Homo sapiens: one gene and its partners. The protein of the gene in region 2 interacts with the protein of the main gene of each other region in a biochemical or structural test. Each region holds a gene or a part of one and is shown on either strand. Other genes may lie near its edges.

Region 1 (7,107 bases), on a different chromosome or scaffold from region 2:
TCTGATCCCAAGAAAAACACCAGCAGGCAAAATTCCCCGGTTTCCTTGTTCTGCTTACAAATTTGGACAATCCCTGGGGGTGGAGGCCAATTTTCTTGCCAAAGGCTGAGAGAGCCAGATAATATTTTCATGGTCTTATTTTAGAATGGGTAGCTCTGTAAACAACCTCAGTGACAAAACCCACAGACAGCTTGTCTGGATCCTTATTTGAAGCAGAAGGTCACCAGCGAGGTAGACATCCCAGATGCACTTTAGACATGTGACAAAGTGCACAAGCCCAGCCAGTGCTGGCTCCCAGATGAGGGACACTTACCTCACCTTCTAAGTTTTGATAGTGCCATAATGCAGCCTGCTCCGGGGGCCTGAGGTCAGAACGGGACCCACACTTGGGAGCCAGCGGGTATTGGAAAAAGGTCTCTCTCTCAAGAGGACAGACCTTGCATGGCACAGGACAGGCAGATTTGCAGAGAAAGGGATGGCTGGCCTGTCTTGCTTGAGAACAGCAAAGGTAGGGAAGTGAGAGCAAGTAGGGAGAAGAGATGATTCAAGTAGAAGGGCAAAATGACTTCTAAATATGCATTTAGCAGAAGGAAAGTCAAAGTCCCGGGAAGCCAATCAGCACAGTGGCTGCAATCACAGGCTCCGATTCTGAGGCCGGGTCACACTCAGCCGCACCATCAGGTCTCAGCCACACTCAGCTCAGCTGCTTACAGGGGCCTCCCTTCCCTCAACTGTGGAACAGAGGGAACATGCGTACTTAATTCATACGGGATGGCATGAGGAGTAAATGAACATATAAATAAACAAAAAATAAACATATCCACCACTTACGACAAGGCCTGGCACACAGAAATCCCTCACTCCATAAACATCAGATGGCGCAGTTGTTCTAATGATCACCTCCACCCCTAGGGGTCTTCCTCCAGAGGCTGCAGCCCATCCTGGCTCACAGCCCTGCCAACCGGTGGGGAGGAACTTTCAACCCCTTTCTCTGCCAGTTTCTCTGCTAAGCTGACTTGTTGGCTGTTTGACCTTGGACACATTACTGAAATGCTCTGTGCCTCAGTTTCCTCATATGGGGACAATGGTTGTGTCCTATCTACTTCATGGATCTACTTTAAGTAGAAACTACAAGTTCAAAAAGGAGGTTATTGCCCTGCGGGTCCAATGGAAACTCTTCTGCTTTCGGCAGATCATATTCAAAGTCAGGACTACAAGACAGAAACTCTTCAACTCCTGTGTACTGACATCCAGGTGCCCGGGTGAGCCCAGCATTTTCACACCTATTATTGAGCCAGTGGTGAAACTTTTTCAAAGAACTAAGATTCATCTTTAAACATCAAATCATTGTTATTATTTGCCATTTTTTATGAGACTTTTTCTAAAATATAAAGATAAAACAGAGTTTTGATCAATAATGAAAAGAGGTTTAATTGGTTCATGGTTCTGCAGCCTGTACAAGAATCATGGTGCGGGCATGTGCTCGGCTTCTGATGAGGACTTAGGAGCTTACAATCATGCCAGAAGGCAAAGCAGGAACTGGCGTCTCGCACAGCAGGAGTGGGAGCAAGGGGAGGAGATGACACGCACTTTTAAACAACCAGATCTCGTGAGAACTTACTATTGTGAGGACAGCACCAAGCCATGAGGAATCTACCCCTAAGATCCAATCACCTCCCACCAGGCCCTGCCTCCAAAATTGGGGATTACAATTCCACATGGGATTTGGAGGGGACAACATCCAAACTGTATCGGCCTCATAGGACAACAAGTACTGTGACAACAAGAAAAGAACTGAGAGAGAAGATCCCAGGACTTCCCGCCCTTCTTCCCAAAGTAATAATCTGGCACATCTGTGCAGATCCCAATAATCTGGCATATCCCTCAGCCTGGGCTCCAGCCAGGGGCACACTCACCTGCTTTGCGGCGGCCTGGCTCGGAGGTAAAGAACCCGGCGTGAGCACAGGGGGGCTCCCAGGGCCACAGAGTTCAGGAAAAGGATTGGGGATGGCCGGCAGAGATGAGGTTCTAAACTGCTGGTCTTCCTCCTGAAGGCGCCTGGAAGGCAGGGATAAGTGCCTGTTAAAAGCTGCCATTCCCCACATGACCCAGCCTTACCACTGTGGTGATACACCCAGAAAGCAGGACACAGGGCTTCTAGGAGTCACTGGCATGCCCACGTTCACAGTGGCATCCTTCACAAAAGCCAAAAAGTAGAGGCATCCCAAGGGTCTGCAGATGGATGAATGGATGAACAATATGTGGCATATCCATACCATGGAACACTACTCAGCCATGAAAAAGGAAGCACATTCTGACACAGGCTACGACACGGATGAACCCTGAAGACATTATGCAGAGTCAAACACACCAGTCACAAAACCAGAGACACTGTGTGATTTCACCCAGTGAGGTAGGTAGTGTATTCAAACCCATAGAAAATAGAAGGGTGGCTGCCAGGGGACTAAGGGGAGGGCAATGGGGAATCGCTGTTTATTGGGGACAGAGTTTCAGTTTCATAAGATGAGAAAGTTCTGGAGATTGTACAACCATTGTGAGTGTGCATTAATACTACCGAACTGTACCCTGAAAAAAACAGTTAATATGGTAAATTTTATGTTACATGTATTTTACTAAAACGAAAACTTTAAAAAAATTACAAGTTGTCATTCTCAGACCCAAAGGGTATTGGGTATCAATTCTCTTCTTCATTAGGCATCGGGGGCGGGGGGCGGGGTGCCGAAGTTTTGTTGTCCTGGGTGCGTGCTCATCTCAGGCAGCATTCAGTGCCTGACATGGCATCAGCTCCAAATACCTCATCCGTTTGATCAGTGAATACCTGATGTGTGAAAGTTTTCTGAATATGAGCATTTTCATGAGAACCAAGTGTTTTTCAATGTCCTTGAAATGAGCATTAATCTAATCAAATGAAAATACAAGAAAAGGCTGTGTGTTCTCATCTGAATTATGCAATGGATGGTTACTTATATAAAAAGGTTGTTGACACTGAATTAACTGGAAATTATAGCTTCATGTATCTGTCCTCGCAAAGCCTGTGTCCACATTAGAAACACACCTTGGAAACACACGCTGAATCCACACACCACCTCTACTTTCCTGGCACATCTCCAGGGGCATCTGTTCCCTCCTCCGAAAAATGCACAACCCACTTGTCACACAACTATGCAACACACACACAGTATGACGAATCAGAAGCAACTGTGAACAGCAGAGAAATCAAGTTCAAAGTCAAAGCGAATGTCAAGTGTCTGGCACCTCCCCTCTGTAGAGTAACTTCTGGCCCACACCTCCAGGGCACTCCTGGACACACAGCCTCCTCCACCCTTCCTGAGGCCACGCGGCCCTGTCTGCAGCCTCCTACCTTCAAGGAGAGGGGAGCAAACCTCACATTATCTTCACTCGGCATTTCCAATCCCTCCCCATGTTTAAACATACCTCAGAAACCCCCATCATAGGCTGTGTCCTCAAGTAATTTTTTTGACAATTTTTACGATTTCACAAAATCAACAATCCGTTAGCTTTCCCAGGAGATTTGCCACTACAGAAACACATTTTGTGACTGTATTACTTTTTCTCTTTTACCAACTTTCCCTATTTTTTAAAGGAAGATCCAGCTAACTATCCCACGTAGACCAGCAAATGATGCATGGATTTAAAATTACGAGAACTCACATGGCATGAAGGGAATCAGTGCTGCGAAATACAGGAAAGCCGTTCCTATAATGGTTTGATGACATGCCATAAAGTTTATTTTTACTGTGAACAAATCCCACTCTTCCCATAACAGCTTCAGCCTTGGCAAGGCGTCCAACTGAAACGTCTGGCCATTGTCATACAGGAGGAGATGGATAAAACGGGTGGCCAGTGCCACTTTCCCATCCACGGCTTCTAGCCAGTGACTTCACCCCAAAAAGATAATCTGACGTTTTAGTGTCCACAAAAGCTTCTCTATTTATTGGGTTGTTTTGAGCATTTTAAAAAGTCCTGTGTTGACTTTAAAGCGGCTCAGAGACATCGCCTAAGGCAAGACTAAGGGATATCACACAAAGACAAAAAATCCCCACCAAAGAGGCTCACAATAGAAGGGACAGTGACTATGGAGAGGGGTGCTGAGATTTAGGGATGTCAGGGATGGTGGCAGGAACTGCAGAGCTGAGGGGCGAGGTCCTTCTTCTCTGTGCCTTGGCTCACTTGTGTTTGTCTAGAACACATGCGTGGCCCTTGCACTCTCAAAAGCCTGGGTTCCTTCTCTGTACAGAATCGGCTCACCCATCGGCTTTCCTATGTGCAAAGCCTTCTTGCCCTTCCCAAGTGTCTCCTCTGCCCATACCCTGCCTGCCCCCCAGCTCCCTTCGGGTTGCATGGCAGCCCCCGGTAAGTTCCTCTGCAGCGTGGACCATGCTCCGTGACCTCTGGTACCCAGCAGCCTGCTCCATGGCCACTTCCCACCTGATGTGGTGAGCCCAGTTACCGCCCCGCTGTGCCACGGTTTCCTCAGCTGGGAAGCGAGGGTAACCCACACTGCCTCCCTCCGAGGGCACTGATAACAAGGAGGAGCTCATCAGCATCTGCACACAGTAAGCACTCAGCAAATGGCCTCACTTCACAAAATAATCTTTGGTGATTCCAGATTGATCTCCACATTTTTTTTTAATCCACCTGAAAGTAAGAAACAAAACTACTTATCTGAGAGGACACCAGAGAGAAGACATTGGGCCCAAGGAACAGCACCTGTGACCCTGTAGGGAGAGGGCTTTGCTGTCCCACAGAGCAAGCCTGCCCCTCCATCCCAGGGACTTAGCGCAGGTAGTCCCGGGGCACATATGGGCGAGTTCAGCCAGAACTCGAGGTTCAAGGGTCCTGGGCAACTACTCCAGCAGGGAGGCAGGCCTTCTGGCTTTCCAGCCCACCCTCGGGCACCTTCGCCATGCAACTGCACCTCCATATTCCCAGGCACTCCCCAAGGCTACTGTGATGCTCCCAAGAGATGCTCCCAAGAGAAAAACAGCTCTCCCACCAGACTTAACTCCTCAGGAGCTAAGTACAAGGGGTCACGCTTCAAAGAGCAAAGTTGAACAAACCCTGGGACAGGCATCATTCAGCATCAATGAATATGACAAAAAGTGAGAAGTCGGAGGGGAAGCCGGGGTGGGAAGCTGGGGAGGCAGCTGACCACGGGCGCCAGGGCCGCTGCACCCTCTCCCCTCCGTAAGAAACAGCTGCCACCTGGGGCAAGGTGATTATCTGGGCTGCGGAAGACCCAAGATGTCAGACCACAAAGAAAACTCTCAGAAGTTTCTAGAAGCAAGAAGAGCCCAGGAAATGAACAGAGCTCCCCGGAAGATGGGGTGCTGAGACAGAAGGCACCAGAACCCCATCCTGACAGAGGCCAGTGAGGGCAAGGGGCAGTCCCAGCAGAGATGGCTGTACATCCTCCGCAAAGGCCCAGAGAGGCACGCAGGGTCCCACGGAGCCCCACGCCATCCCGACTGCGACAGGGCAGACAGGCGGATCCTTGAGGGCTGCCCCTGGCTCTCAGCTTGATTCTACAAAGATCTTCATTCAGAATGTCTAAGGTACTCTCAGCACCTTCACCTTCGACATGACCATTCTCTAGACACCCTCCTCCCAGGCACTCGAGACAAAATCCAAGTCACCCTCCACACACTCTCTGTCTCCTCACAGCCCTGGCAAAATTCAAGTGCTGGCAAAACGCAGCTGCTCCTCCTCAGCAACGTGCTCAAATCCCCCCTCCTTCTTCATCCTCAGGCAGCGCACAATCATCTCCCATCCGGGGGCTCCTGAGACCACTTCCAAACCGGCCATGCTCTGCCAACCCTGCTGCCCTCTACCACTGCCCCCACGACCCCTGGCAACCAGAATGCTGGTGTCAAAACCCAAACCCAGCCCCTTCACACGCCTGTCCAGAACTCTTTCTCACGTGGCTCCTGAAAAAGGCACACAAAGTGCTTCAGCACCGGCCCCCATCTGCATCATCTCTTCTGCTCACAAAACCTCTGCCTCCATCTATCTGAGCTCCTATCACCCTTTGACATCCGTTCAGAAATCCTACCTCCCAGGAACCTCCCTCAACGTCCCCAGCACGTTCCTCCCTCCAGCCTCCCTGTTTCCACAGAGATGTGCCTACCCCTGAATTAGCAGAGGAATGTGGCAAAATGCAACTCTGAGGGAGGTCTGGGGTTGCACGACAAGCTCCAGGGGGTGCTGTAGCTGCTAGCCTCCCGTCCCTACTCTGGGTAGTGAGGACTTGGGGCATGCAATCAGCTCCATGGCTGTTCTTCCAATCTTTCCAGAGATTTTTCCTCTGGTGGTTTTCCTGCATATCCCTCTACCTAGCACAGTGCCTTGCACATAGCAGGCACTCAATAAAAGGTACTACTGGAATTGAACTGGCTACAAAGTTCAACCCAAGGGCGGCACACTGCACACACTCAGTGTATCCGTTATCCCATCAAAGCAATGTATCTGCCTCTTGACTTTGCAAGACCAACACTATTCCCCCCAACACCATTTAACTCACAGAGAGCAGTGTCCCTGCCGACAGCTCTCATCCTTGGAGAAGGCTCTGCCCATAAGGCCTGGACCTACCTGACAGCGAGGATGTGCACAGGCTGGGAGCGCTGCACCCTCTGCCTCGGGGACACCTGTGGCTGGATGGACCGAGGAGGGCCTGAAGCCCGAGGCTGGCTGCGGGCATGCTGGCCATTCTGCAGGAGGGGCACCGTGTCTGACTGCATGCTGCAGGCCGAGTACAGGCTCTCCAGGGATGCATTCATATCGTTCACCAGGGCTTCCAGGTCCACATCATCCTCTGCACAGAAAAAGGCAAGAGCAAAAAAGAAACTTTAACAATGGAGAGCAATCAAACCCAAATGTACATCTTGGTGATCAGGTTCCAAACCTCAATCCTATTTTTCAAATATTATGGAAGGGGTAGAGGGGAAACACCAAGACAAGTATGACTGTATGGAAGCATGCATATTACATGTATTCATCATGACTGACATTCCAGAGACAATTCAATCATTAGAGCTGGGCTGCATTTCTACCTGTCTCCAGGGAGAA
Region 2 (7,107 bases):
CACCTGACCTGATTTTTCATCCACTACAATTCTACAGTGATCTCCAGAGACCAGTTTATTGCTGGGGAAGGAAAGGTCGCAACCTAAAAAAGAGAGGGTGGGTCAACACGGGATATGATCGTGGTAACTGTGAACACTACTGCACTTTGTTTACCAAAGTATGTGGTTCCAACTCAGGATCCCCATTGTACATATGTAAAAAAAAACACTTGACCAAGAAAGACATAAAGAAATTTTTTTTTTTTTCTTGAGACGGAGTCTCGCTCTGTCGCCCAGGCTGGAGTGCAGTGGCACCATCTCGGCTCACTGCAAGCTCCGCCTCCCAGGTTCACACCATTCTCCTGCCTCAGCCTCCAGAGTAGCTGGGACTGCAGGCGCCCGCCATCACGCCTGGCTAATTTTTTGTGTTTTTAGTAGAGACGGGGTTTCACCATGTTAGCCAGGATGGTCTCGATCTTTTGACCTCATGATCTGCCCACCTTGGCCTCCCAAAGTGCTGAGATTACAGGCGTGAGCCACCGCGCCCGGCCCATCCTGAACCTTTCTGAATCCCCACCCTCTCAAAGACACCCATCAATACCTCCAGTTACACACAGCCTCTTAAATGGCAATTTTACAGCCAGGCGCAGTGGCTCATACTTGTAAACCCAGCACTTTGAGAAGCTGAGGTGAATGGATCACGAGGTCAGGAGTTCGAGACCAGCCTGGCCAACACAGTGAAACCCCATATCTACTAAAAATACAAAAATTAGCTGGGCATGGTGGCGGTTGCCTATAATCCCAGCTACTTGGGAGGCTGAGGCAGGAGAATCGCATGAACCCAGGAGGCAGAGGTTGCAGTGAGCTGAGATCGCGCCACTGCACTCCAGCCTTGGCGACAGAGCTAGACTCCAACTGGAAATAAAAAAAAAAAAAAGCAATTTTACAATATGCTTGCATACACAGCTAACCTGATGAGTATTATTAGAACTTTAAAAAAACTCAGGGGGTTGGCTAGGTCCGGTGGCTCACACCGAGGCGGGCAGATCACAAGGTCAGGAGATCGAGACCATCCTGGCTAACACAGTGAAACCCCATCTCTACTAAAAATACAAAAAATTAGCCGGGCGTGGTGGCGGGCGCCTTGTAATCCCAGCTACTCAGGAGGATGAGGCAGGAGAATGGCGAGAACCCGGGAGGAGGAGCTTGCAGTGAGCCGATATGGCGCCACTGCACTCCAGCCTGGGTGACAGAGCAAGACTCTGTCTCAAAAAAAAAAAAAGAAAAAAAAAAACTCAGGGGCTTAAGTAATTCTTCAGTATCTTAATTTAGTCCTTAATTTCTTTTCTGTGTAAACTTAGGTTTCATAAATCAACATAAAATTGAAGCAATGACAGTCACAGAAAAAGTGACTGAGCCAACTGTGATAGGCATTTGTTTTTTTTTTTGTTTTTGTTTGTTTTTTTTTTTTTGAGATGGAGTCTCGCACTGTCGCCCAGGCTGGAGTGCAGTGGCACCATCTCGGCTCACCACAACCTCCACCTCCCAGGTTCAAGCCATTCTCCTGCCTCAGCCTCCTGAGCAGCTGGGACTACAGGCATGCGCCACCATACCCAGCTAATTTTTTGTATTTTTAGTAGAGACGGGGTTTCACCATGCTGGTCTTGAACTCCTGACCTCTTGATCCACCCGCCTCAGCCTCCCAAAGTGTTGGGATTACAGGCTTGAGCCACCGCACCTGGCCTGCGATAGGCATTTGTACACGTATAAGAAACTGCATCTTATATACAGGGATGCATCTATAGCTGAATACAGTAATTCTGACACTTTGGGATTTTTTTTTTCTTTTTTTTTTTTTGAGACGGAGTCTCTTTCTGTGGCCCAGGCTGGAGTGCAGTGGCACGATCTCAGCTCACTGCAACCTCTGCCTCCCGGGTTCAAGCGATTCTCCTGCCTCAGCCTCCTGAGTAGCTGGGATTACAGGCGCACACCACCAGGGCCAGTTAATTTTTGTATTTTTAGTAGAGATGAGGTTTCACAATGTTGGCCAGGATGGTCTCGATCTCTTGACCTCGTGATATGCCCGCCTCGGCTTCTCAAAGTGCTGGGATTACAGGCGTGAGCCACCAGCGCCCGGCCCTGAATACAAAAGCAAGAGGGAAAATCCTCAATACTTGCCCTCTCCTTAAATCAAAAGAACAAAGGCGTTTTAATATCTCATCATTAATCATTACTGCCTATAATAATCTATAAGGATACATAAAGATACTAGAAGACAAAAAAGCGAAGGGTTTGGTCAGGAGACAGTGGCATGCAAACATACTTTTCCTAAACGTTCCACACAGAAAGACACCCTGAATCTGCTTTAGCCTGAGCCTTGCTCCCATCACTGACCTATGGGTGTGTGAATCAGAAGACTCAGTATTGTTAAAATGTCAGCTGTCCTCCAGATTGTTTCATACATTCAATGCAATTCCAGTCAAAATCCCAGAGGGCTTGTAGACACTGACAAGCTGATTCTAAAGTTCACAGAAAAAACGTGTAGAAAAACCAAAGCAATTTTGAAAAAGAATGAAGCTGGAAGACTCATATTACTTAACTGACTTACCATCATGCTATAGTAAACAATACAGTATTGTGGCTGTGTAAGGATGGCCAGACAGAGACAAATGTAAAATCTAAAACTATGAAACTTCCAGTGGAAAAGACAGGCAAAAATCTTAGTGCCGTTGGGTCTTGCATGGACTTCGCAGATAGGATATAAAAAGCACAAACCAGGAAAAAATAATAATAATAAGCTGAGGTTTGTCAAAAGTAAAATGTGGGCCAGGTGCCGTGGCTCACACCTGTAATCCCAGCACTTTGGGAGGCCAAGGGGGGGGCGGATCACAAGGTCAGGAGATCGAGACCATCCTGGCTAACATGGTGAAACCACGTCTCTACCAAAACTACAAAAAATTAGCTGGGCGTGATGGCGGGCGCCTGTAGTCCCAGCTACTCAGGAGGCTGAGGCAGAAGAATGGCGTGAACCCAGGAGGTGGAGCTTGCAGTGAGCCAAGATGGTGCCACTGCACTCCAGCCTGGGCAACAGAGCAAGACTCCGACTCAAAAAAAGAAAAAAAAAGTCAATTCTGGGCCAGGCGTGGTGGCTCACACCTGTAATCTCAGCACGTTGGGAGGCCGAGGCGGGCGGATCACAAGGTCAGGAGTTCAAGACCAGCCTGACCAACATGGTGAAACCCAGTCTCTACTAAAAATACAAAACTTAGCCAGGCATGGTGGCGGGCGCCTATAATCCCAGCTACACGGGAGGCTAAGGCAGGAGAATGGTGGGAACCCAGGAAGCGGAGGTTACAGTGAGCCGAGATCACGCCACTGCACTCCAGCCTGGGCGACAGAGCGAGACTCTGGCTCAACAACAACAAAAAAAGTAAGGCTGGGGGCGGTGGTTCACGCCTATAATCCCATCACTTTGGGTGGCCAAGGCGGGCGGATCACTTCAGACCAGGACTTCGAGACCAGCCTGGCCAACAGGATGAGACCCCATCTCGACTAAAAATACAAAAAATTAGCCGGGCATGGTAGCATGCACCTGTAATCCCAGCTACTTGAGAGGCTGAGGTGGGAGAACATGGGAGGTGGAGGTTGCAGTGAGCTGAGATCGTGCCACTGCACTCCAGCCTGGCAACAGAGCGAGACTCCATCTCAAAAAAAAAAAAAAGTAAAAATCTGTTCTTCAAAGATATTGTTTAAAAAGATGAAAAGACAAGCTATGGACTGGTGGAAATATTTGTAAAACACATATCTGACAAAGATCTTGTATCCAGAATGTATAGAGAACTCTGATAACTCAATAAATAGAAAGTAAATAATGCAACTTAAAACAATTTAAACACTTTATCAAAGAAGAGATATGGATGGCAAATTAAGCACATGACAAAATGCTCAACATCATTAATCTTCAGAGAAATGCAAATTAAAACCATGAAATACCACTACACACCAAATAAGAATTGGCTGAAAATACTGACCACGGGCCGGGCACGGTGGCTCACGCCTGTAATCCCAGCACTTTGGGAGGCCGAGGCGGGCGGATCACATGGTCAAGAGATTGAGACCATCCTGGCCAACATGGTGAAACCCCGTCTCTACTAAAGATACAAAAAAATTAGCCGGGCATGGTGGCACGTGCCTGTAGTCCCAGCTACTCAGGAGGCTGAGGCAAGAGAATGGCTTGAACCCGGGAGGCGGAGGTTGCAGTGAGCTGAGATTGCGCCACTGCAAATCCAGCCTGGCGACAGGGCAAGACGCTGTCTCAAAAAAAAAAAAAAAAAAAAAGACTGACCACCTACAAGTGGCCAAAAGGGAAGTGGAAAACCTGGAACTCTCGTACTGTGCTGTGGGACTGCAAAATGGACAAGCACATGGGAAACAATGCGGCAGTTTCTCAGCAAGTTAAACAGACACTGGCCACGTGGCCCAGCAATTCCATTCATAGTTACTTAGCTAAGAGAAAAATGTATGTCCCTACAAAGACTGCACACTTATGTTTATATTAGCTTTATTTCTTACAAAAACAGGAAGCAGTATAAATGTCCATCCACTGGTTGTAAACTAACAAGCCATGGTGCATCCAAACCACAGAACACTACCCGGTAACAGAAAGGAGCAAACTGCTCATCCATGCAACAAGGTGCGTGCCAGGGAAAGAAGCCAGGCGCAGAAGATGATGGCAGACACCCTGTGACCCTGTGTCACGACACGCTGGAAGCAGCAGAAGGCAAAGAAACCAGATCAGTGGCTGCCAGGAGCCGGGACTCAGGGGGACCTTTCAGGGTGACGAACATGTTCTACATCTTGACTGCACTGGTGAGTACATTTCCCAAAACTCATGGAACTGAACCCCAAAAAAGGTGAATTTTACTACAAGTAAATGATACTGCCATGAAACCGGATATTAAAAATCTTATTTGTGCAAACATTCTGTACTATTGGAAGTACTGTATCCAAGGCAAGTATCACCTGTGGTCAAGCTCTTCCCATTCCATTGAGCGTTAACTGCCAGGACAGTCTCCTTCAAGCCCCAAAACCAGTGCAAGTCACGGTGTCGCCAGAGCCAGTTTGTAACAGAGGCGTCTCCATGCCAGAACATCAGGTTTTTTTTTTTTTCTTTGAGACAAGGCCTTGCGCTGTTACCCCAGCTGTGGTGCAGTGGAGCAATCACAGCTCACTGCAGCCTTGAACTCCCAGGCTCATGTGATCCTCCCACTTCAGCCTCCTGAGTAGCTGAGACTACCAATATGCACCACCACGCTCAGCTAATTTTTTAAGTTTTTGTAGATACAGGGTCTATGTTGCCCTAGCTGGTCTCAAACTCATAGGGTCAAGAGATCCTCCTGTTTTGGCCTCCCAAACTGCTGGGATTACAGGCATGAGCCACCGTGCCTGGCCTGAATATCAGCATTCTAATCTGGAACCGAGATGCTTTGTGCTAAAGTTCTATTCACAGCATTTGCTGCGCTTGACGCTTGGTGGGTTAAATCTTTCAAGCAGTTGATGTACATTTCTGCCACTCTCTTAGAATAAAGAGCTCTTGGCTGGGCGCGGTGGATCACACCTGTAATCCCAGCACATTGGGAGGCCGAGGCGGGAGGATCACCTGAGGTCAGGACTTAGAGACTAGCCTAGCCAACATGATGAAACCCTGTCTCTACAAAATACAAAAATTAGCCAAGCATGGTGGTGAGTGCCTGTAATCCCAGCTACTCTGGATGCTGAGGAAGGAGAATCACTTGAACCTGGGAGGCGGAGGTTGCAGTGAGCCGAGATCACATCATTGCACTCCAGCCTGAGAAATAGGAGTGAAACTCCGTCTCAAAAAAAAAAAAAAAAAGACTGGGCGCAGTGGCTCACGCCTCTAATCCCAGCACTTTGGGAGGCCGAGGCGGGTGGATCATGAGGTCAGGAGATCAAGACCATCCTGGCTAACATGGTGAAACCCTGTCTCTACTAAAAATACAAAAAAAATTAGCCGGGCATGGTGGCGGGTGCCTGTAGTCCCAGCTACTTGGGAGGTTGAGGCAGGAGAATGGTGTGAACCCAAGAGGCAGAGCTTGCAGTGAGCCGAGATCGTGCCACTGCACTCCAGACTGGATAAAGAGCTCTTTGGGAAAACAAGGTTGTTGCACCCCTTCCTACACGTTACCTAGGCTTTCCCTTTTCCCCCAAATAATGCCTTATAAATGGCAGGCACATCATTGCTTTAAAATAATCAAGTTCTGTCTGGGCGAGGTGGCTCATGGCTGTAATCCCAACGCTTTGGGAGGCCAAGGCAGGTGGATCATTTGATTTGAGGCCAGGAGTTCAAGACCAGCCTGACCAACATGGTAAAACCTCATCTCTACTAAAAATACCAAAAAACTAGCCAGGTGTGGTGGCACACGCCTGAAATCTCAGCTAGTCTGGAGGCTCAGGCAGGAGAATCACTTTAACCTGGAAGATGCAGGTTGTAGTGAGTGAAGATCGCACCACTGCACTCCAGCCTGGGTGACAGAGTAAGACTCCGTCTCAAAAAATAAATATATCAGGCCGGGCACAGTGGCTCACGCCTGTAATCCCAGCACTTTGGGAAGCCGAGGCGGGTGGATCACCTGAGGTCAGGAGTTCAAGACCAGCCTGACGAACATGGAGAAACCCCGTCTCTACTAAAAATACAAAAAGTAGCTGAGCGTGGTAGCACATACTTGTAATCCCAGCTACTCGGGAGGCTGAGGCAGGAGAATTGCTTGAACCCGGGAGGTTGGAGGTTGAGCCAAGAAGGCACCACTGCACTACAGCCTGGGCAATAAGAGCAAAACTCCGTCTCAAAAAAAAAAATACATATATATATATAAAATAAATAAATAAAATAATCAAGTTCTACAACTGTTAGGAACTGAATGTTTGTAACTGAGTGTCTGTACCCCCCTAAAATTCATATATTTAAGTCCTAATCCCCAATGTGACTGTATTTGGAAATGGGGCCTGTGAGCTGATAAATGTTAAATGAGGTCACTAGGTGGGAATCAGATGTCACAGGGCTGGTGCCCTCTTAAGAGGAGGCAGAGAGAGCAAGCAGAGTCCCCCTCT
Region 3 (7,543 bases), on a different chromosome or scaffold from region 2:
TGCTAGAACCATAATCCTGATGATGCCCTCCAGCCTTCACAGGGCTAGAGGCTCACAAGGCTACCCCGGGTCCCCTTAACAGAGCCACCTCAGTCACCTTTACTCCTTTATTGCCTTGGCACATTTCTAGTCTCTGAGGTTCTCTCTGAGATCTGCAGAATACTGAGGCCACTCTCTGGGAAATGTGGCATAGCTTCCTTTTCTTGTGTAATCTACAGAAACTTTGCTAGACTTTCTAGCATTCTCCCTTTGTGCAGATTGGCCCAGTGTGATGGTATTCTAGGTCTTCTCTCTAAGACCCACTTAAGGGATTTACTCTGCAAACCCTCCTGCCTGACATTCTTGAAAATTCTCCTCAATTGAACTTTTATCTCCTTTGGAGTGAAAGAAGCGAACAAACAAGCAAGCTCTTACATCATCCTACTTTCTTCAGTCTATGAGTTATGATATAAGCTTAAAAGTTTCTGTATTGAAGCCAGATTTCTAGATATTCAGATTCTTCTCTTAAAGCCCCTCCCTGCTGCCTGGTCCCTGCCCCCACACCAATGGCTTTAAAATTCTATTTTGCAAAGTGTAAAAAACATTTTTTTTTGAGAGGGAGTCTCGCTGTGTCACCCAGGCTGGAGTGCAGTGGAACGATCTCGGCTCGCTGCCATCTCCGCCTCTTGGGTTCAAGTGCTTCTCCTGCCTCAGCCTCCCAAGTAGCTGGGACTACAGGTATGGCACCATCACCCCCTGCTAATTTCTGTATTTGTAGTAGAGACAGGGTTTCACAATGTTGGCCAGGCTGGTCTTGAACTCCTGGCCTCAAGTGATCTGCCCACCTCGGCCTCCCAAAATACCAGGGTTACAGGCGTAAGCCACCACACCCAGCCTAGAAAAGGCCTAGAAAAAGTGGCTCACGCCTGTAATCCCAGCACTTTGGGAGGCCAAGGCGGGCAGATTGCTTGAGCTCAGGAGTTCGAGACCAGCCTGGCCAATGTGGCAAAACCCCCTGTCTACAAGAAATACAAAAATTAGCCTGGGGGTGGTGGTGCCATGCCTGTAATCGCAGCTACTTGGGGGCTGAGGCTGGAGAATCGCTTGAGCCCAGGAGGTCGAATCACGCCACTGCACTCCAGCCTGGGCTACTGGAGTGAGACCCTGTCTCAAGAAAAAAAAAAATTTTTTTTTTGAGACAATTGTGAACATTTGATTATGAACTAGTTATTAGAAGATACTAAGAAGTGATTTGTTATTAATTTTGCCAGGTCCATGGTTTTTAGAGAAATTAGTGAAGGCCATTATAGGCAGGGTGGGTTGGGAAGTGACCCGAGAAATGAAGCTACTGTGGGAGGAAGAGCCACATATGCCATTCTTGGATTTCAGGCTCACTGAATCAAACGGGAGTGACATGACATGATTAATTTGCATAAAGGTTCTGTGTGTGTGTGTGTGTGTGTGTGTGCACGGGCATGTGTGTGTGTGGCTAGGGGTGCAGATGAGAAGTGTGTTTGTGACTGGGAAGTGGCTGGCTGGAGAAATTTTGGATTCCTTTCCTTTCCATACCATTCCTACCTAAATTTATCAGTGAACATTTTGGTTCTCTTGGCTTCATCACCTTCCCTTTCCAAGCCACCACCATCTCTTATCTGAACACAATAATTTTCTATCAGTTGCTTCTATCCTTGTTTCCTGTAATTCTCCACAGAGCTGCCAGCATTTTTAAAAGCCTAAATCAAGTCGTTATCCTCCTGCTCGAAACATTCAATGGCTTTCCATTGCAGTTAAAACACAAATTTTACTGGAGACTCTTAAGTTCCTATGTAACCTGGCCCTTATCTTCCCCACCGTCCTTTTAGTGCCACTTTCCTTCTTACTCACCAGCCAAACCCCACAAGCCACCCTACAGTTCATTTTCCAGTTACAAGTGTTCATTTTTCATATCTACTTGTGATGCTGTTATCAGAATAAATCAAGAAAAAACCAAAAAAGTTAATTTTTCAGAAAACATTATTTAGTATAATAGTTTTGAAATTGTAATTGCTGTAACATTTTAATCAAACTAGTACAAATTGTACTTGATCTTTAAATATAAAACAAAGAATGATTAAGGGAAAGAATGTTTTACTCCTGGTTCTGGGATGTGAAATATTGATAACATAGAGAAAACATACTGTGGGAGGAAGAGCCACATATGCCATTCTTGGATTTCAGGCTCACTGAATCAAACAGGGGAGTGACATGACATGATTAATTTGCATAAAGGTTCTGTGTGTGTGTGTGTGTGTGTGTGTGTGTGCGCGCGCGCGGGCATGTGTGTGTGTGTGGCTGGGGGTGCAGATGAGAAGTGTGTTTGTGACTGGGAAGTGGCTGGATGGAGAAATTTTGGATTCCTTTCCTTTCCATACCATTCCTTTAAATAGCAAATTTTAGTTCATTCAAAGCACATTCTTTAACCATGGGACAGTCATTATTCATAGATCTTAAGTCTTTTTATTTTTTTGAGATGGAGTCTCGCTCTGTTGCTCAGGCTGGAGTGCAGTGGCTTGATCTCGGCTCACTGCAACCCATGTCTCCCTGGTTCAAGCGATTCTCCTGCCTCAGCCTCCCAAGTAGCTAGGACTACAGGTGCGTGCCACCACGTCTGCTTAATTTTTGTATTTTCTTAGTAGAGTCAGGCTTTCACCATGTTGGCCAGGCTGGTCTCGAACTCCTGACCTCAGGTGATCCACCCAACTCGGCCTCCCAAAGTGCTGGGATTATAGGTGTGAGCCATTGCGCCTGGCCAGTCTTAAGTCTGAAAGAGCTATGTTCTCATATTTGGAATTTTTTCTTTGTCTAGTGAGCATGACTTTCTTACTCTTACAAAACATCAATTTGAGCAATTTCTGGCATATTTTCCAAGAATTTATTTAAAATCTGGCATACTAAAAGCTGAACTGTATTGCCATTTGCCTCAACACACTTCAAGAAGAACATACAACAATTAAAATAATTTGAAATGCCATTGTCTTTATCTTCCTCATCAACTTTGGTCAAATGAAATAATACATTGTTTCAAATTCTATTGCTCATCCATGGTTCATGATTAGAGATCACTACAGTTTATTTACGATAATGAACAAATGTGTCTTGAAAAGCTGACTACCGGCCTGGCACGGTGGCTCATGCCTGTAATCCCAGCACTCTGGGAGGCCGAGGCGGGCGGATCACCTGAGGTCAGGAGTTCAAGACCAGCCTGGCCAATATGGTGAAACCCCGTCTCTACTAAAAATACAAAAATTAGCTGGGCGTGGTGGCGGGCTCCTGCAATCCCGGCTACTCCGGAGGCTGAGGCAGGAGAATCGCTTGAATCCGGGAGGCGGAGGTTGCAGTGAGCCAAGATCACCCCCATTGCACTCCAGCCTGGGGGACAGAGCAAGACTCCATCTCAATAAAAAAGAAAAAAAAACAAAAAAAAGAAAAAAGAAAAGCTGACCACCTAATATTATTGTGCTGACAGGCGTGTAACATGGACCTCTCTGTGACGCGCAAGTATTATCTGGCAGTTACATGGTGCCGCCTGTGCAGCTGGGCGCCACCACCAGCTTCCTGCCCTGTGCGATTAAAAGGCCAGCTTCGGGGACAGCAGCCTCCTCAACGCAAAGCGACCAGCCCTGCCAGGCGTCGGCTGCAGCTGGTCCAAGGTTGACGGTCCCAGGGCCGCATTCTCCTTCCGGTCACCTCAGACTCTGGAAAGAGAGCCATGGAGGGCCTCAGAGCGCCCCTCTGCAGTTCCTTGAGGAAAACAAGGGCCTCCCCCTCTTGGCTGGAGCAGCCAAGTGCCCACGGGGAAAATGGTCCCGTCCACCATTTCAGGCAAACGCCCCCATAGCTGTAATAAACATGTGATGGGTTTCCTGCACCAAGAAAGGAAAATTTTCCTTAAAAATAACAAAAAGAGGTGGGGAGGGGACTCTAAGTTCCATTTAAGATTTTCCAAACTCGTTGTGTCTCATGCATACGCTGAGGCTTAACATGAAAATTTGGAGCGAAAGTCCCCACGGTTCACCACAGGGAATGAAGTAAAGTATCTCGCCGGTAGCTCTAGGTCTCGTAAACCGTGGAGCTCCTTTAGTATAAGGCCCTATTATGTGCCACATTAGATGAGAAGAAAATAAGAGGAAGGATACGGTAGAGCCTTTAGAATGGGGTTCAGTCTTAGGACTCGTAGGATAAAGGAAGGTCGTTTCCCTCCGTTTGAGGCAGGGAATCAAACAAAACACCGGCACCGCAGGCACCGCAGTCGCACTCCTGGGGCCTCGTGGCTTTCCCGCGCGCCCGCCTTGGGGGCGGGGAAGAACCCGGATGGAACCACCCTTGCAGCCCGGACCCCCCGCCGTCTTTGAATGGCAGCGGGGCGGAGTTGCCCTCCCTTCTGTGCTCTGACTGGTTTGGCTCCGCACTCTCCTCTTCGTGATTGGGCTTTCCTAGTGCCAGTCACAGAGCGACGCTGGTCTCCCAGATTGTTGCAGAAGGAGACGGCGTCGACGTCTGACTGGACTCGCGGCGACTTACCTTTCAGTCGTGCGCTCCTGATCCGGCGCTCGGAATTTGTCCCCGGCTTCAGGGCTGCGGGGCCTGGAAGGAGGCGTATCGAGGCGGCTCGAAAACGATCCAGGGGAGCCGAGGCGCTCCTCTTGTCATCCCACTCAGCGCCATGTCCTGGATGTTCAAGAGGTGAAGGGGGCGGAGGGGGTGGGGCGCTCGGTCTAACGGCCTGGAGGCGTCCCCAAATGAACCTGACCTTCCCCGCGTTCCTCTGCGTTCCCTGGGCGATTTGTGCAGCTGTATTCGTTCTGTTGGTCGCATATGTGGCCGCCGGAGAAATAAATGCATTGTCTTCGCTGGCGAGTAGGGGCTCCTAGGGCGAGTCCCGTGTTAGGGACTTGGGAAATCTCTGTCACCGACTGTGGGGGGCCTGGGGCTTAAAGCATCTCGGCCAGTGCTTTATTTAACAAAACATCCATTAGATACCCACTGTGCGCCAGGCATTGTGCTCGGTGGAGGGCCGAGTAAGACAGTCCTTGTCCCCAAGTGGCTCACAGCTTATCTGTATGCACAGACGTGCAGATAAGTATTTGCAGAGGCGCTAGTAGAGATATGCGCCACTTGCAAGGAAAACGCATCGCAAATAAGCGACTGTTCTTAGGAGAATGGAAACTTTTTGCAATGCTCCAGTAGACTCCCCTTCACTTTTCATTGTCCAAATTGGTATTTATGGTCATTCCCGAAACAGTTACACCTAATGGGTTTGGGGTTATGCTTAAACCGGCGACGGAAGGCGGGTACGGGTGGCTTGGGGCCAATTTCCCACGGTGGCGTGGTTTGGATACCAGAATAGGTGTTCTGCTCGCAGGGAGTTACAGTGATGGATGCTGGATGTATTTTCTGGAAAATTATAAACAACTTCTGGTACATTAATAGTTGTATTTTTATAAGTCTTTTATATAGCTCAATCCCTATTGAAATTTTGGCATATGATTTCATTTTTTAAATTATTTTTTTGACATGGAGTCTCGCTCTGTCGTCCAGGCTGGAGTGCAGTGGCACAATCTCGGCTCGCTGCAACCTACGCCTCCCGGGTTCAAGTGATTCTCCTGCCTCAGCCTCCCGAGTAGCTGGGATTACATATGGGCGCCACCACGCCTGGCTAATTTTTGTATTTGTAGTAGACAGGGTTTCACAATGTTGGCCAGGTTGGTCTCAAATTCCTGACCTCAGGTGATCCACCTGCCTCTGCCTCCCAAAGTGCTGGGATTCCAGGCGTGAGCCACCGCATCCGGCCCATAATTGTAGTTACAGACATCATATACATATCAATTTAGATGATTTTCACTGGGAAAGAGGTTAGTGAACTCTGACTAGGCTTTTCATTTTGAATACCTAGGGGGCAGGTAGAAGAGCCAATATTGAAAACAGGTAGAGTTCCTAGAAGCCTTCTCCACTCACTGCAATTCCTGCTTTAACGAGAGTAACTATTAATCTTTACCGTGATTCCCATGTAAGATTTCATTTGCTGAAGTAAAGCATGAGAAAACTACTCATATGGTCTTTGGAAATACTTAAATATTATATTGTTTTTCTTTGCCTTTAAAAAAAAATAGGGATCCAGTTTGGAAGTACTTGCAGACTGTCCAGTATGGAGTTCATGGAAATTTTCCACGCCTCTCATATCCAACTTTCTTTCCACGTTTTGAATTCCAAGATGTTATCCCTCCAGATGACTTTCTAACTAGTGATGAAGAAGTAGATTCCGTTTTATTTGGAAGTTTGAGAGGTCATGTGGTTGGACTACGCTATTACACGGGAGTAGTGAGTATAATAGTAGATAATTAAATTTTGATTATATTTCTGGCGTTAACCTAGAAAATAAGAGAATTCGCAGGTGATGTGTGCGGTTAATCTTTATTTTACTTTAAGTTAGTTAAATATTTGTACGCAAAAAATAACAAATACCTTAAGTGACCCTCCCACCTCAGCCTCCCAGAGTGTTGGGATTACAGGAATGAGCCAATATGCTTGGCCTCAGTGCGTTATGTTTGGTTATTATGGGTAGCACCCCACCCCCACACCCCAGCGCCTTGTTCATGTCATCGATTTGTTGCAAAAAGGAGATCGTTTTGTGGAATCTTCTGGATTTTATTCTTTCATTTCTCCGTATGTTTCTTATGTTTAAGCTTCTCAATAGGGTGTCTGAAGCATGTTCGACAGGAGATTCCTTAGGAGTTTCATGTTCTGGATTTGTTTTTCTCCTGTATTTCCTTTACATTGGAACGTTTCAAATTGTTTTTTGATTGTCTGAAATGTGTTGTCTAGGAGATTCCTTAGGAAGAGACAATATTTCCTAAGTTTTTATATTTTCATACTTGTGGCATTTTATGAATGACAGTTTCATAAAATGAAAGTTATGAAGGACTTAATGACAGTTGGGCTGAATTTAAAATCTTTGTAATATATCTTTGTAATAAAATCTTTGTAATAAAATCTCCATATCCTAATGTTGCATAGAATTCTCAGGCCAGTGTGATTTTCTTTCACTTAAGTGAATTGGATTTTTTTTTTTTTCTTTTTTTTTGAGACCAAGTTTCGTTTTGTTGCCCAGGCTGGAGTGCAGTGGCCTGATCTGGCCTCACTGCAATCTCTGCCTCCCAGACTCAAGCAATTCTCCCAATTCAGCCTCCTGAGTAGCTGGGACTGCTGGCGTTCACCACCATACCCAGCTAATTTTTGTATTTTTTTTTTTTGTATTTTTTTTTAGGTTTTGGCATGTTGTCCAGGCTGATCTGGAACTCCTGGGCTCAAGTGATCCGTCCGCCTTGGCCTCTCCAAGTGCTGGGATGCTGCACCCGGCCTCTAATTTTTTCTAATAGATTCTTGAACTCTATCAGTTCTTATTTCACATCTATATATTCTCTGGCTCTCATATGCATTTCTGAGCTTTTCTGTTTCAGATTTGTGCTAATTTTTCAAAACTTACATTGCTTTCGATAATTATTTTATACCACCATGAAATACTAGA

The links.
Region 1: the proteins of CHFR (region 2) and GRB10 form a complex in vitro, tested with the Homo sapiens proteins (one study listed by BioGRID).
Region 3: the proteins of CHFR (region 2) and HLTF form a complex in vitro, tested with the Homo sapiens proteins (one study listed by BioGRID).

What each region holds. Positions count from the first base shown.
Region 1 is NC_000007.14:50,667,806-50,674,912, forward strand, and holds part of GRB10 (growth factor receptor-bound protein 10), read right to left. Parts: intron 6,854-7,107; coding exon 6,631-6,853; intron 2,059-6,630; coding exon 1,917-2,058; intron 1-1,916.
Region 2 is NC_000012.12:132,877,572-132,884,678, forward strand, and holds part of CHFR (E3 ubiquitin-protein ligase CHFR), read right to left. Parts: intron 84-7,107; coding exon 1-83. UniProt on the Homo sapiens protein: E3 ubiquitin-protein ligase that functions in the antephase checkpoint by actively delaying passage into mitosis in response to microtubule poisons.
Region 3 is NC_000003.12:149,083,475-149,091,017, reverse strand, and holds the start of HLTF (helicase-like transcription factor), read left to right. Parts: upstream 1-4,484; 5' UTR 4,485-4,681; coding exon 4,682-4,701; intron 4,702-6,128; coding exon 6,129-6,336; intron 6,337-7,543. UniProt on the Homo sapiens protein: Has both helicase and E3 ubiquitin ligase activities. Possesses intrinsic ATP-dependent nucleosome-remodeling activity; This activity may be required for transcriptional activation or repression of specific target promoters.